2 linked regions of the Homo sapiens genome follow. The protein of the gene in region 1 interacts with the protein of each later gene in a pairwise test. Each region holds a gene or a part of one and is shown on either strand. Other genes may lie near its edges.

The links. Proteins that work in one complex are often made in the same cells at the same time.
Region 2: the proteins of TNPO3 (region 1) and SSX2 interact in binary tests that used the Homo sapiens proteins (3 or more experiments, as listed by UniProt).

Annotation. Positions count from the first base shown.
Region 1 is NC_000007.14:128,995,572-129,003,899, reverse strand, and holds part of TNPO3 (transportin-3), read left to right. Parts: intron 1-2,665; coding exon 2,666-2,841; intron 2,842-3,332; coding exon 3,333-3,471; intron 3,472-4,609; exon of another isoform or gene 4,610-4,677; intron 4,678-6,364; coding exon 6,365-6,511; intron 6,512-8,328. UniProt on the Homo sapiens protein: Importin, which transports target proteins into the nucleus. Specifically mediates the nuclear import of splicing factor serine/arginine (SR) proteins, such as RBM4, SFRS1 and SFRS2, by recognizing phosphorylated SR domains.
Region 2 is NC_000023.11:52,696,770-52,705,097, forward strand, and holds the end of SSX2 (protein SSX2), read right to left. Parts: intron 7,824-8,328; coding exon 7,728-7,823; intron 5,862-7,727; coding exon 5,812-5,861; intron 3,810-5,811; coding exon 3,674-3,809; intron 2,163-3,673; coding exon of another isoform or gene 2,017-2,162; intron 1,320-2,016; coding exon 1,219-1,319; 3' UTR 1,215-1,218; intron 750-1,214; 3' UTR 127-749; downstream 1-126.

The sequences.
Region 1 (8,328 bases):
TACACTTCAAACTTAACAGTGGTAATTTCTGGGAATTGGAATTGGAGTAAGGAAGAAGTTAATTAGTGTTCCAGGATTATATTATCTCCTCTACTGATCCAGTGTCAGGACTCCTCTGTCACTAGTAAGAGTGTTTATCTAGAGTCAGGGTAAAATATATTCTTATTTTTACATTCATTCAGTGGTTTAAAATCATGCTACTTTTTTTCTTTTTAGGGGGAGTGTCACAGGGAGTCAGGGTGTCTCCCTGTCGTCCAGACTGGAGTAGCTCCATTGGCATGATTGTAGCTCACTGTAGTCTCAAACTCCTGGCTTCAAGCAATCTTCCTGCCTCAGCCTCCCAAGTAGCTGGGATATAGGCATGTGCCACCATGCCTGGCTAATTTTTAATTTTTTCTAGAGACAGGGTTTCTCTTTATTGCCCAGGCTAGTCTTGAACCGGCCTCAAGCAGTTCTCCCACCTCAGCCTCCCAAAGCACTGGGATTACAGATGTGAGCCACCACACCTGGCCATGTCACATTTTATTTTGCTGTATGTTTGGACCATGACTTTCTGGTACAACTTTCCCCCAACAGCTCTTAAAAAAAAAAAAAAAAAAAAACCCTAAAAATTAAAATACTTCATATATACAAAAGAATAAGTATGAACACTTACTATTTATTTATTTATTTTTGAGACAGAGTCTCCTCCCTCTGTCGCCCAGGCTGGAGTGCAGTGGCACAATCTCGGCTCACGGCAACCTTCGCCCTCTGGGTTCAAATGATTCTCCTGCCTCAGCCTCCTGAGTAGCTGGGACTACAGGTGTGTGCCACCACACCTGGCTAATTTTTTGTATTTTTTTTTTTTTTTTTTTTTTTTTGAGAGGGAGTCTCGCTCTGTCGCCGGGGCTGGAGTGCAGTGGCGCCATCTTGGCTCACTGCAAGCTCTGCATCCTGGGTTCATGCCATTCTCCTGCCTCAGCCTCCTCAGTAGCTGGGACTACAGGAACCTGACACCACGCCCGGCTAATTTTTTGTATTTTTAGTAGAGATGGGGTTTCACCGTGGTCTCGATCTCCTGACCTCGTGATCTACCGGCCTCAGCCTCCCAAAGTGCTGGGATTACAGGCGTGAGCCACCGCGCCCGGCCAATTTTTTGTATTTTTAGTAGAGACAGGGTTTCACTGTGTTAGCCAGGATGGTCTCGATCTCCTGACCTTGTGATCTGCCCACCTTGGCCTCCCAAAGTGCTGGGATTACAGGTGTGAGCCACCATGCCCAGCTCGAACACTGACTTTTTATAACTTGGTAATATAATGAGAATCTTTGAACCTACTATTCAATCTAAGAATACCTAATAAATAATTTGCATCTTTGTGCTCTCCCAAACCTGCTTATATACCTTTTTGTCCCACTGGAGATTTTAAATATCCTTTTAAAAAAATTATTCAAGGAAGACTAATACGCCCTTACTAAGTGTATTCAACCTCTCAACTGTACTCTCTTCACTAGAAACCCGGGAGGATTCCCTTCTTGGACCTTTTGGTCTGCTCTGATTTGCATCAGTTGTTCTTTAGATCTACTCCCTGTCATCTTGGGACTTGTCTTTACTGTGCTTTCTGGATTAGGTTAGCTGTTTCTCAAACCCCCTCAAATAACTTCTTCAGAAAAGATATAATGGAAAGTAAACTTGGAATTTTTGCATGCCTGAGAACTATTTTTATTTTGCTTTCGATCTTGATTGATGGCTCAGCTAGGTATTAAGTTGTAGGCTGAATATTATTTTCCTTCAAAATTTCAAAGGCCTTGCTCTCCTTTACTAGCATGCATCATTGTTAATGAAAAGTCAGAGAACTCTGAATTCTGCTCCTTACTATTACCTCCTCCTCTCTTCCCCTGAAATTTTACAGACCTTTGTTTAACTCTGGTATTCTGAAATTTCACAATGATGTGTTTAGGTATGTGTCTTTGATACTTGTTGAGCCCTTTCATTTTAGGTAGTACTTGAGTATCAGAAAAAGGATGGAAAAGATTTTTCACACACTAGAATAGGGTAGGGAACACATGGCTTTCCATTTGGAGGGGCTGGTGTGAACAAGAACATGGAGATTAGAAATGATACGACCATGACTTCGGGACAGAAAGGCTGATTTGCTTGACATATAAGGAAATAGAAATAAGATTGGGAAGATTGATGGATGTTGTCTCATGGAAGGCTATGACTTGACTGTTACACATTTAAAGTACATGTTCAGAAAGAGGCTATAATTGAAAGAAAGAAAGAGGCTCTAATTGTTTTCCTATTACATTTATCCATCACTATCTTCAAAGGATTGGTTCCAGGACCACCCACTACCCCTGCCCCTCTGTGCACAGTTTCCAAGAGATGCAGATGCCCAAGTCCCTTATATAAAATGGTGCAGTATTTGCATATAACCTATCCACATCTTCCCATATACTCTAAATCACCTGTAAATTACTTATAATACCTAATACAATGTAAATGCTATGTAAATAGTTGCTATAGGGTAATTTTTAAATTTGTGTTTTTCATTGTATTATTATTTACTTATATTTTGAATATTTTCTATCGATGGTTGATTGAACCCTAGGGTGTGCAGGGCCAACTGTAGATCACTCCTTAGTGATCATACTTCTTGCTTCCCTATTCCTGCTACCTCCCCAGCAACAGGATAAGACCTCGTCTAACCTACATGAAGCTGCTTCGGACTGTGTATGCTCAGCTCTCTATGCCATTGAGAATGTGGAGACTAACTTGCCATTAGCCATGCAACTTTTTCAGGGAGTGCTGACATTGGAGACTGCCTATCATATGGCCGTGGCACGTGAAGATTTAGACAAGTGAGTAATTGTTTAAGTCTGGAGCCCTGGGTTTACCTACAGTCTGGTCATTCTTTTAAGTCACTTTTTATTATTCGTCTGTCATTTGTGATTCTCAGTGATTCTGTAAAGTACAGATAGTGCTTCCTAAAGATGCTCTACTATGCTCTTCTGAACCTAGAGTGGCAAATTGGGTGCAGGGTTTGTAGAATTACCATAGAAAGGTAAGGCTTTAAAAGTTGGAGACAAATTTTAAAATATCAAGTGTGATTTGATGGGAGTTTTTATTCAAATGTTTTAATAATTGAGAATTTGAACTGACAAGTCACTTGCGTAGGAGTGTACGATCTAGGTAAAGGTGTCTGTCATGGGGATTGTGATACAGCATAGTAAATAATCACTAGATGTCCCTTAGACTGAGGAACCTTTTATTTATTTGATTAACTGTGCCTGTATATACTTATAATATCCAGATTTCTGACTCATTGTTCTCATTCCCCTGTCTTCTACAGAGTTCTGAATTACTGCCGTATTTTCACTGAACTATGTGAAACTTTTCTTGAAAAAATTGTTTGTACTCCAGGCCAAGGTCTTGGGGACCTTCGAACTCTGGAGCTGCTGCTTATCTGTGCAGGCCATCCTCAATATGAGGTAGTGTTTATGCTATTCAAAGGCCATTATTCTCCAAGTTGTGTGCTGCATATTATCTATATTTCATTACCTCGTGCCCAAATTTTTATTGTTGAGAAATTACAGTCTTGTTTTTAATTAATGTGATTTCATCTGTTTTGGAATTTTTTAAAAAAATTATATTTGGGTTTCTGCATTGTGTCCATTTCTGTTTTCTTACCTGGTTGGCTGGGCTGTTGTAGGCCCCTCAAGGAACTCGTTAGAAAGCAAGCCTTTCCAATGAACCCCTTGTCTAGCTTGACTTATTCTCTAGAGTGTTACAGCTAAAAAACACCAAATTCTAACTATACCTCCACAAGTCTTAACACCCCCAATTTTTCTCCAAATGATGGATGAGAATGACAAAGGGATTGAAAGGACTTAAGGGTCTCTGTCATTCAGAATCCTTGACATCCTACTTACCGAGGTTTGCTAGATTTTTTAAAATCTCATTTATTTGAGAAGTTTTACCTCTTTATAGTATAAGAAATGAGAAAGGGTCGGGGTTGGTGGCTCACACCTGTAATCCCAGCATTTTGGGAGGCCGAGGTGGGCAGATCACCTGAGGTCAGGAGTTTGAGACCAGCCTGGCCAACATGGTGAAACCCTGTCTCCACTAAAAATATAAAAATTAGTCAGGCGTGGTGGCTCACACCTGTAATATCCCAGCTACTTGGGAGGCTGAGGCAGGAGAATTGCTTGAACCTGGGAGGCAGAGGTTGTAGTGAGCTGAGATCGGGCCACTGCACTCCAGCCTGGGAGACGAGCGAAACTCCGTCTCAAAAAAAAAAAAAAAAGTGAGAAAGAAGTGCTCCCAAGTTGGGCATTGTTTTAAATAGCTCTGTTTTGGATCCTTGATGGGAAAAGGATGGTAGGGATCCTCTTACTGTGCCTTAGGCACAGTGGTCCTGTGACTCTCGGCCTGTTTTCTGTTATCACATACAAGACAACGTTTATTTGTTTTACATAATGTTACGAGGATACCTAGATTTGAATGGAACCCAAAACATTTCTGGGAGAATGTAACACCACGCAGTTATCACTCCTTTAAACAGTACCATATGGAAAAGAGGCTACGAGTAAAATCCCAGGCTTTTTCTCCCTTTCTCTCACACTCAAGGAAACAGGTGAATAAAAGTGACATGAAGCTGAATCAGTTATGTTCAGGAGTTACAGATGGTTTGCCAAGTAAGAAATGTTCTAATCTCAAACATTCAATGAAATGATTTCAGAATTTTCAGAAAAGTACTTTAAAAAAGACTTCTGGCCGGGCGCAGTGGCTCACGCCTGTCAGCACCTTGGGAGGCCGAGGTGGGCAGATCATAAGGTCAGGAGTTCAAGACCAGCCTGACCAACATGATGAAACCCCATCTTTACTAAAAATACAAAAATTAGCTGGGGTGATGGTGCGCACCTGTAATCGCAGCTACTCAGGAGGCTGAGGCAGGAGAATCACTTGAACCCAGGAGGTGGAAGTTGCAGTGAGCCAAGATCACACCACTGTACTCCAGCCTGGGTGACAGAGCAAGACTCCATCTCAAAAAAAATAAATAAATAAAAATAAAAAGACTTCTGGCTGGGCACAGTGGTTTATACCTCTAATGAGGTTCATACCTCTTAACACTTTTGGAGGCTGAGGTGGGAGGATTGCTTGAGCCCATGAGTTCGAGACCAGCCTGGGCAACAAAGCAAGACCTTGTCTCTACAGAAAATTTAAAAAATTAGCTGGGTGTGGTGGTGCACACCTTTCATCCCAGCTACTCAGGAGGCTGAATGGGAGGATCACTTGAGCCCAGGAGTTTGAGGCTGCAGTGAGCCATGATTACACCACTGTACTCCAGCCTAGATGGCAGAGCAAGACCCTGTCGCTACAGAAAATTTTAAAAATTAGCCAGACATGGTGGCAAGCGCCTGTAGTCCTCCTAGCTACTCAGGAGGCTGTGTGGAAGGATTGCTTGAGCCCAGAAGTTCAAGGCTGCAGTGAGCCATGATTGTGCCACTGTGCTCCAGCCTAGGCGACCCTGTCTCTAAAGAAAATATATATATCTTTTGAGACAGGGTCTCACTCTGTTGCCTAGGCTGGAATGCTGTGGTGCAATCACAGCTCACTGTAGCCTCAGCCTCCTGGGCTCAGGTGATCCTCCAACCTCAGCCTCCTGAGTAGCTGGGAATACAGGCATGTGCCACCTACATGCCTGGCTAATTTTTGTATTTTTTTAGAGATGGTGTTTCGCGCCTGGCTGAAATTTGTTTTAAATAAAATAAAACTATGTGGTGGCTCATGCCTGTAGTCCCAGCACTTTGGGAGACCTAGGTGGGAGGATTACTTGAGGGCAGGAGTTCAAAACCATCCTGAGCAAGATGGCAAGGCCCTGTTTCTACTAAAAAAAAAAAAAAAAAAAAAAATTAGCTGAGCTTGGTGGTGTGTACCTGTAGTCCCAGCTACTTGGGAGGCTGAGGCAGGAGGATCACTTGAGCTCAGGAGTTTGAGGCAGCAGTGAACTGTGTTCATTCCACTGCACTCTAGCTGGGGCAACAGAATGAAACTCCGTCTCTAAAAAATAAATAAAAATAAAGACTTCCATGTCTGTTATTGTTTTCTCTAAATTCAAAATTCAGTATACTTTTGGAGGCATTACCTCAGGACTAAATGGAATGTAAAGCCAGTCATTCTAAATGGAGATTTGGGCCTAACGTGGGAAGACAATTTGGGGAGATAATAGTAAATCTGCTAGAGAAAAGGTGACTTCTTAACTGGCTCCACTCATATTATTTAAAAATATATCTTTCTTCCTATATGGTCGTGGTGATAATAAAATGTCTTCTTATTCTATTCCTTTCCCATTCAAATAAATCATCTCTTTTAACCTAACAGGTAGTAGAAATTTCATTTAACTTTTGGTACCGACTGGGGGAACATTTGTACAAAACTAACGATGAAGTTATTCATGGCATCTTCAAAGCTTACATTCAGAGGCTGCTTCACGCCTTGGCTCGACACTGCCAGCTGGAACCAGACCATGTAAGTTCCCTTCTCTACCTCTTCAAATCTTAATTTCTTCCTCTTGTCAGTGCCAACTTGAAAAGGAACTGAGAAGATAGATAATAAACCTGGCTGGGCACCCTGGCTCATGCCTGTAGTCCAGCACTTTGGGAGGCCAAGGCAGATGAATCGTTAGAGCCCAGGAATTCAAGACCAGCCTGGGCAACATAGGGAATCCCCTGTCTCTACAAAAAGAAATAAAAGAAAATTAGCTGGGCCTGGTGGCACACGCCTGTAGTCCTAGCTACTCAGGAAGCTGAGTTGGGAGGATTGGCAGACTCTACAGCTTATACTGAAGAAGTCAGTACCAGTATAATCTGTTAGGTCTATTTAGGGAAAAAAAAAAGCAAAACACTCCAGCTAAACCAGTAATTCTTTTCCTGGGAGTATATCTTAAATCTGCAGAAGAAAAAAACAGCTATTTTATATACAAAATGTTATCTGTAAAAGTAAAAATTATAAACCCATGTACAGCAGTATAACAAGAGTTATATGAATTATATAAGAAGAGTTATGATTTAGCAACTTGATGCAGCAATTAAAAGGTAGTGAAATGATGATATGGTAAGAGAAAAATCAGAATGTAAAATTATGTACTCTTTTTTTTTTTTTTTTTTTTTTTTTTGAGACGGAGTCTCGCTCTGTCACCCAGGCTGGAGTGCAGTGGCGTGATCTCTGCTCACTGCAAACTCTGCCTCCTGGGTTCACGCCATTCTCCTGTCTCAGCCTCCCGAGTAGCTGGGATTACAGGCACCCGCCACCATGCCAGGCTAATTATTTGTATATTTAGTAGAGATGGGGTTTCACCGTGTTAGCCAGGATGGTCTCGATCTCCTGACCTCATGATCCACCCACCTCAGCCTCCCAAAGTGCTGAGATTACAGGTGTGAGCCACCGCCCCTGGCCAAAATTTTGTACCTTATTAAATAGTAGAAAATAAGTGGTTAGATGAAAACTAATACAAAAGTGAAATATTTGTGTGTATGATTTTGCCCCATGAAGATACACATTTTTTAAATCTTATTTATACTGATTTTGTAGTTTAAAAGAATATAGAAATCTATTTGCTTAGAAAAAAATACTAGAAAATTATTAGTTTATTAGAAAACTCTTCAAACATCATGCTTAGTCTCTTCAAATTTTGCCACATCGATTTCATCCTGTTGGTTGGTTGAATCCGTCCTTTAATCTAGGACCTGCAGTAAGTTTTATTGCTTACAATTAAATCCCACGTGCTGTTCTCTTAATTTTAATGTTAGTATTGTGTTTGAGTCATGGTATTTTGTATCTCCACACAACCTTAGTCATGATTTAGTCTGGTGGTTTTCAAACTGCACCCACCCCCGCTATTTTTTAAAGTGAAGAATCCAACTGGGCGTGGTGGCTCATGCCTGTAATCCCAGCACTTTGGGAGGCCGAGGCGGGTGGATCACTTGAGGTCAGGAATTTGAGACCGGCCTGGCCAACGTGGCAAAACCCCGTCTCTACTAAAAATACAAAAATTAGCTGGGCATGGTGGCAGGTTCCTGTAATCCCAGCTACTCAGGAGGCTGAGGCAGGAGAATCACTTGAACCCAGGAGGTGGAGGTTGCAGTGAGCCAAGATTGCGCCACTGCACTCCAGCCTGGGCAGTAGAGCAAGACTCAGTCTCAAAAAAATAAAATAAAGTGAAGACTCCTGTCTTCAACCACATTTTACTTGGAAGCCTGATTTATAAAGCAGGGCCCCTTTGGTTTAAATGGCTCTGTGCTTGATCCCTTTTTTGCCTTTGCTAATTCTGTGGCACCATTTCCCTT
Region 2 (8,328 bases), on another chromosome or scaffold:
TAGTGTTTTGTTGAATAAATGACTCCTTTGACACAGCAATTCCACTTCTAAGAATCTTTCCTAAAGAAATATGCACACACGTGCACAGAGCTGTGTGCACAATAATGGCACGAGCAAACAACTGGGGAACGTTTGCAAAGGTTTATTAACTGTCAGTGACTGCTACAGGGGAATCGGATGAGGGGAGTACATGCTGACCAGGAAACAGAGTGAGGGGAGCTTGACCAGGACGCATGGCAATGGGAAAAGCAGATGGCAGATGCTTATACTGGTACTTGGTGTGTGTGTGTGTGTGTGTGTGTGTGTGTGTGTGTGTGTGTGGTGTGGTTTGTGTGCGTGTGTGTGTAAATGCAGAGGAAAAAATCTGAAATTAAACACTCAGAACTGCCCTCAGTAGTCACATCTGGGGAGAGAGGAGGGTAATGCTGTTCCATGCAGAGGTAACCGACAATACTTGTTTTCTAAGGTAGGTGCATGGATACACAAACCAAAATATGCATTAAGTATGTCTTGCTCATCAATGAAAATGTTAGTATCTAACAGAATGACACAGTGTAAGAAAATACAACGTAAACGCTAACATCGAACTCTTGGCACACTAAGAAAAATGACGCTCAACTTTTCACTGTTGTGAACACTTGCTTTCACTTGCTATGCACCTGATGACGAGGGGTCCGCAGCCATGCCCATGTTCGTGAAAGGTCACCACGTTCTGCTTCTCATCATGGGCATGTGTCGTATCCCTGAGGCTGAGGCAAGAAGAGAGAAGGAAATAAGTGGCAGTGAGTTCCCACCACGTGGCAACGCAATCTCAACTCCTCCTGACCTGCAGACCCTGCACACTCCGATTCTGCCCTATCTCAGGACCTGCACACGCCTTCCACGGTTCCTCGAAGTGAACCATCTGTTCATGCCACAGTGACTTCCTCGCCTGGGTTATCAATTCCTAGGCTAGAGAAAGGTGTGGCCCGCATATCAGGGCTTACTTGGGGTTTGGGACCCCACAGCATCCTGGGTAGGGAGGATCCCCGGATATATACAGGGCAGGGAGTAGAAAGAGCATGGGAAATCTCTCATCGTTCAGCCTCAATGCTGTACAGTAGAAAATTGTAAGAAGGGAATGATTTGGGGAGCAAGTGACAGATGGGATACCAGTATCATAACAGAATAGCACGTCTGCAGGGATGTGGGGGATGAGTGGAAGGTTCTCTTACGGAGTTACTCGTCATCTTCCTCAGGGTCGCTGATCTCTTCATAAATCACCAGCTGTTTTCTCTCACGCAGTCTGTGGGTCCAGGCATGTTCCCCCCTTTTGGGTCCTGTGATGGAGAATAGTTGGAAAGTGAGGGTTGGGTAGGTTGGAGAGTGTTAGGCTCTGTTTACTCAAAAAAAGGAGATGCCTGCTTCCTCCCAAGTGCCCATGGGCCTTCTTCATCCAGTTTTTCACATTCTCTGGCTTAGAGAGGCTGAGACCTTAGATCCACACCAACATAGGCCAAATGCCAATTAAAGTTTTAGCTTCTGGCTCCTTCCCTTCTCAGGCTTAGATTCCCAACCTCTTCACTTACGGGAACATTCCCCCATACCTCCTTTCATCCAGCACGTATTTGTTAAGGCCACACAGGCGTACCTTGTTTTGTTGCACCTCATGTTCATACTGCTTCGCAGATGCTGCAATTTTTTTTTTTAATTCTCACCAATTTTACACTTTTCCATTATTATTATATCTGCTATAGTGATCTGTGATCGGTGAGCTTTGATATTATTACTGCAATTGATTTTATTGTTTTTTAGTGTTTTAAAATAATTTTTGTTCTTTATTTTGTGGGTACGCAGCAGGTGTATATTCTTATGGGGTACATGAGATGCTTTGATACAGGCATGCAATGGGTAATAATCACATCATGGAAAATAGGGTATCCATCCTCAAGCATTTATCCTTGTGTTACAAACAATCCATTTACACTTTTAGTTTTTTTTTTAATGTACAATTAAGTTATTATTGACTATAATCACCCTGTTGTGTGTAATTGTTTTGGGGGTACCATGAACTGCACCCATAGAAGTTGACAAACTGAATCGACCAATGTTGTGTGTGTTCTGACTGCTCCACCGATGAGCTGTTCCGCGTCTCTCTTCCTTTTCTTGGGCCTCCCTATTTCCTGAGACACAGCAATACTGAAATGAGGATTATTAACAACCTTACAATGGCCGCTAAGTGTTCAAATGAAAGGAAGAGTCGCATGTCTCTCACTCTAAATCACAAGCTAGAAATGGCTAAGCTTAGTGAGGAAGCATGCTGAAAGCCAAGACAGGCTGAAAGCTAGGCCTATTGCGCCAAACAGCCAAGCTGTGAATGCAAAGGAAAAGTTCTTGAAGGAAATAATAATACTAATACTCCAGTGAACACACGAATAAGAAAGCAAAACTGCCTTACTGCTCAAATAGAGGAAGTCTGAGTGGTCAGGATAGAAGACGAAACCAGTCACAACATTCCCTTAAGCCAAAGTCTAATTCAGAGCAAGACCAGAACTCTCTTCAAGTCCATGAATGCTGAGAGAGGTGAAGAAGCTGCAGGAGAAACATGTGAAGCTAGCAGAGGTTGGTTCATGAGGTTTAAGGAATGAAGCCGTTTCCATAACATAAAAGTGCAAGGTGAAGCAGCAAACCCTGATGGAGAAGCTGCAGCAAGTTATCCAGAAGATCTAGCTAAGATCACTGTTGAAGGTGGCTACATGAAACAACAGATTTTCAATGTAGATAAAATAGCCTTCTATTGGAAGGAGATGCCTTCTAGGACTTTCATAGCTAGAGAGGATTGATTTCAACTTTGAAAGAAGTTCTACTGTGGGTAAAATGCTATCCAATAGCATCACATACTACAGAGAAATCCTTCATGAAACGGAGAGCTAATCGATGTGGCAAATTTCACTGTTGTGTTCTTTTAAGAAACTGCCACAGCCACTCCACCCTTCAGCAACCACCACCTTGATCAGCCAGCAGCCATCAACACCGAGGCAAGACCCTCCACCAGCAAAAAGAGTGTGACTCACTGAAGGCTCAGAAGATTGTTAGCATTTTTAACAAAGAATTATTTTTAAATTAAGGTATATACATTTTTAGACACAACGCTATCGCACACTTAGTAGACTACACTATAGTATAAACATAATGTTTTTATGCGCTGCCAAACCAAAAAACAACGTGTGTGACTCACTTTATTGCAGTGGTCTGGAACTGAACCTGCAGTATCTCTGAAGTACACCTGTATTGGGTAACAGGCATGGCATTGAGCTGAGTCTTAATCAGGTAATGATCCCAGGTAATCACAGATAGAATTGCTTGAGCACCTTTCATGTCATCAGGCCTTCTAGATTAAATTTAATGTCTCCAAACAATTTATGAACTATGATTCCTTATTTCCATCTTACGGACTAGGAATCTGGAGCTGAGAAAATCTGAAAGACTTGCCCCAAGTCACATGGTTTTTTCTATGGGTGACAAATCAAGTCTATCTCTGGAAGTCATGTCTAACATCTCATCTGGAGCTGGGCGAGCTCCTCAGCCCAGTCTGGACCCAGGGTTATCTGGGATCCATGCCACACACCCAGTCCATATACCTGAACATCGCCAGGGAAGCCAGAGGGATTGTTCCTGAATTGCTTCCTCTTACCAGATCTCTCGTGAATCTTCTCAGAGGTAGTTGGTTTTCCCGGGGGGCACAGCTCTTTCCCATCATTTTGTGGGCCAGATGCTTCTGGCACTTCCTCCGAATCATTTCCTTCCTCTGCTGGCTTCTTGGGCATGATCTTTATAATGTGAAGATCACAGATAAATAGTATCAGTGACATATCTATAGTGCTTTTGAGCTTACAAAGGGTCTTCACATGCATTAGCTTATTCAATGTTCTCAACAACACTGGGAGAGTTACACAGGCCTAAATTAGGAGAAACCTGGGAGGGGAGGTTAGAAGGGAAAGGAATGGCCTAAGTGAATATGGTTTCCAGGGATAGAATGCTTATCTTCCCACTCTTTTAGGACTGACATTCTTGCAAACAGCAAAAATCTCCATGTAATTGAGAGTGTGATATACAGATGATTTGGAGAAGAGTAGCATTCTAAGAATTCACAAGGTCTACAAAGGGAAGAGGTTCTGTAAAATACAAGGGATCCCATATAAGCTTCTAGACAGCTGCTGGGAGAGTAAATGTAAAAACATAGGGAGGCGACAAAACACTGCTGGGAAAGATGGTGTGGGGAGATGAATACAGGGAAGGGAGAGGGAAAGAAATGGTTTGCCGAAATTAATCTAGGCAGCAAACAAAGCAGTACCAGATATGACATACTACCCTACTGGGGCACCGACATTCAATGTGGAATTCAGTGAGGTGGTACCCATACCAATTCTGGTTGCATTGGGATGTGTCACTGACCAACAATCTTAAGCTACTTTTTTTTTTCTTTCTTTCTTTCTTTTTTTTTTTTTTTTTTTTTTTTTTTGAGACGGAGTCTCACTGTGTCGCCAGACTGGGGTGCCGTGGCATGATATCGGCTCAAGGCAACATCCGACTCCCGCGTTTAAGCGATTCTCCTTCCTTAGCCTCCAGAGTATCTGGGACTACAGGCAGGCACTACCACGCCCCGCTAAGTTTTGTATTTTTAGTAGAGACACGGTTTCACCATGTTGGGCAGGATGGTCTCGATCTCTTGACCTCGTGATCTGCCCGCCTCAGCCTCCCAAAGTGCTGGGATTACAGTCGTGAGCCACCGCGCCCGGCTCTTAAGCTACTTTTCATTCAGCTTCCTCCCTTATGAAATAGTGAACCATACATGTCAAATAGCCTACAGTAAAGTCCTCTCTGAGCTTGTAAACACTGTTTAAATGTCGTAATAATAACAATTAATACCTTTCACAATCCTTCTTTGAATTCAGTCTCCACACTGGCAACCCAACTCCCAGATCCCTTTACCCTCCAAACCAGAGTTGAATCTGCACTTGTGGGATCACTCATTCAGGGGCCTCCGAGGGATCCCCTGGGCTGGGACTGGGCCTTCCCAGATGCCCCAGGTGCAGACAAGGCACTCAAGGAGCTCACAGTAGGGAGGGGCCAACAATCAAAGTGATTCCTAAGCCATGCAAGTGGCCCCAGCAACACAGCAGAGACCAGATGGTCCTTCCTGTTGAGAGAGTGGGTGTCTCATTGGAAGCACCAGCAGGCCCTATGGGGTGAAGCCCTAGTGAGCAACATCTGAACTTCATAGACAAATGCAAATGTGAATGAGCTTTAAATGGCTTGGAGCTCTGGATTAGACTACCACTGCCACTGCGCCCCAGGAAAATTCTTTAACATCTCTGTACCACGATAGCCTCATTTTATTATTATGTTGCTGATAACTATGATCTAAAACATGAACTATAATTCTTTACTTCCATTTCATGGACCAGGAATCTGGAGCTCAGAGAACTTAGAAGATTTGTGTCAAGTCACATGGCTTTCATATGGATGAAAACTGAAGTGTGTGACTCATTATTATTTGGAGATAATAGAAACAATGTCTTCTTAAGGATTAAATAAATTAATCCATGTGAACTGCTTGAAATAGTATCTGGCATCACTATGAAAACAAAAGAAGTATTAACAATCGCAACTGTTGGTACTATCAAGCCGTCGGTGCGACATCAGGTGTTGTGATAGACATGGGGAGAAGAAGGCAGTGAGGGCATTTTTGATATTCTCCCACTCTTACCAGTGTTCGCATCCGTGGAGGGACAAAGGTTCTCTGGTCCTTTAGATCTGAGAGACACTCACCTTCGGGGAGATTCCCTGGAGCCTGCCGAAAGTCATCTGAGGACGTTCAACTGAAAGAGAATACATCAGAATTTTTCTTTGTTGGTAAAGGTTTCCAAACTCTAGAGAGACTTCTGTCGCATCAGGGTATTCTGCAGCAGAGGGTTATGAGTCCACTCATTGTTGAGGAGTTATTTCAGATTTGCTTCTGAATTATGTTTAGTCATGGTTGGTGCATTTATCTGTGGCATCAATTCAGAATTTTCCATCTCATGGTTTATCACATGGGGACTACACCCCATCACAGTCTCATCTTATTCCATTACATATCTTTTACTTTTTCCCAAATAATTAAATTGATTGGTTAGGAATCTGAACTGTATCCACTCAAGATGTGCAACAACTGAAAATCATTGTACACTTCAAATGGGTGAATCTTATGGTATGTGAATTAAGCTGTTAAATGTGTGATGAACCATGGATGATTTGGTCCAGTGGCTCTGAAATATTTTCAGTATAAAGACACTCCTTTACTGTCAAAACTTGGCAGATACTCAAGCACTGGCTTTTCAGGTCTCTTATAGTGATTGCGGGAGATTGTAGAATCTGGCCTGTTTAGTTGGCGAGTAATAGGTCTATTGGAGACGGTTTGGACATTCTGACCTTGTCTTATAATTATGTTGTCAGAGTAGAAGAGCAAGTAAATACATATGTCCCCTTTATATTCCTGAAATGTACAAAGCTCTCTACCCAAGAACCTATCTTTTTTTCACCCTATGTTATCTCTGCTCTCTGACAAGTGGGAAAGCTCTCTGTGTGTTGGATAAGGGATCACTCCTTCAAACTCTCTTCCAAGCTCATTACGGAGAATCAGGGTTCTTTGGGAATGAGAAGACTATTTGGTTTTGATAAACCAATACAGAGAAACAGCGATCTTTATTACATAATGTGTTCATCACCCTCACTCCTAAGATACCTATCCAATACCTACATGCTGTTAATGAAACAAACTCTGGAAGTTTTTGGCGGATCTACAGTTTTAACACTTTCTTTCTTTCTTTCTTTTTTTTTTTTCACTTGTAGCATTTTTTTAGCAGTCCTTTGATTCATTAACGGTGCTTAGGAAGAACAACATGTCGTTTAAAAAAGAAATATTTCAAACACACAGAAAAGTATGGGGAATAATATTGAGTCCAGTCGGATCTCAACATTACCCCACAGCTATGTTAGGTCTGATTTATTTATTCAGAATATTAGAAAAACTGCAAATAGGCCGGGCGTGGTAGCTCACAGTTGTAATCCCAGCACTTTGGAAGGCTGAGGCGGGTGGATCACCTGAGGTCAGGAAGTTTGAGACCAGCCTGGCCAACATGGTGAAACCCCGTCTCTACCATAAATTAAAAAATGAGCTGGGTGTGGGGGCACGTGCCTGTAACCCCAGCTACTCGGGAGGCTGAGGCAGGAGAATCACTTGAACCCAGGAGGTGAAAGTTGGAGTGAGCTGAGATTGCCTTATTGCACTCTACCCTGGCCGAGAAGAGTGAAACTCCATCTCAAAAACAAAAACAAACAAAACACACTATCAACAAGTCACAGCTGAAGCTGTCTGTGCCGCACTCAGTAATCCCTGCCCGCCCTCCCTCCCTCCTCCACTTACAGCCAGTCACCTTAATTTGATGGCTTTTTATTCACATTCATGTTTGTATACATTTACCATTTACTTATTATCCATAAAATATATATTCTTCTTTTGCATGTTTTAAAATTTTATATGAATGGCCTCTGTAGTTAACTTTCTGCATGCAATTTTTTTTTTTTTTTTCACTCAGCCCTGATGTGTATGAGGGAACAAATGCCTGAGGATCTTTCTCAGGTAGCTGAGCTGAAAAGCAGCTGGGCTTGAGGAGACCCTTTCCAGCCCCTTCCCATCTACTCACCCTGATTCCCACGGTTAGGGTCATTATCCAAATCATTCCCCTGGAAGTCTTCGGCCCGTTTATTACACATGAAAGGTGGGAGGGTGGCCTTGAAACCTAGAAAGAAGCAAAATGTTTATTCCTTAAGAGACAAGCTTGGGCCTGGTATGGTGGCTCATGTCTGTAGTACCAACACTTTGGGAGGCTAAGGCTGGAGAATTGCTTGAGGCCAGGAATTCAAGGCTGCAGTAAGCTATGATTGCACTACTGCCCTCTAGCCTAGGTGACAGACTGAGACTGACTCAAAAAAAAAAAAAAAAAAGGAAGAGACAAGCCGAGAGAAGGTAGGGTGGGTGTGTGTGGGGTGGGGGTAGGGGGGTTGCCGGGATGCCACAGAGACAGTTGGGCTCATCAGAACAGAAGCCTAAGGGAGAGAAACGTGCAGGATCCAGGTATAAGCTCCACTGTGGCCAGTCCCTGCCCTCAGCCCTGACAGGATACAGAAGAGCAGAACACCCAGAAGCTGCCTTGCGATTTTTCCCTGCACAAAAGGAAAATGTGAGGTACTTTCTGCAGCCTAAGAAGTAGCCAAAGCAGGAAAAGGGATGCTCATGTGTCCCCA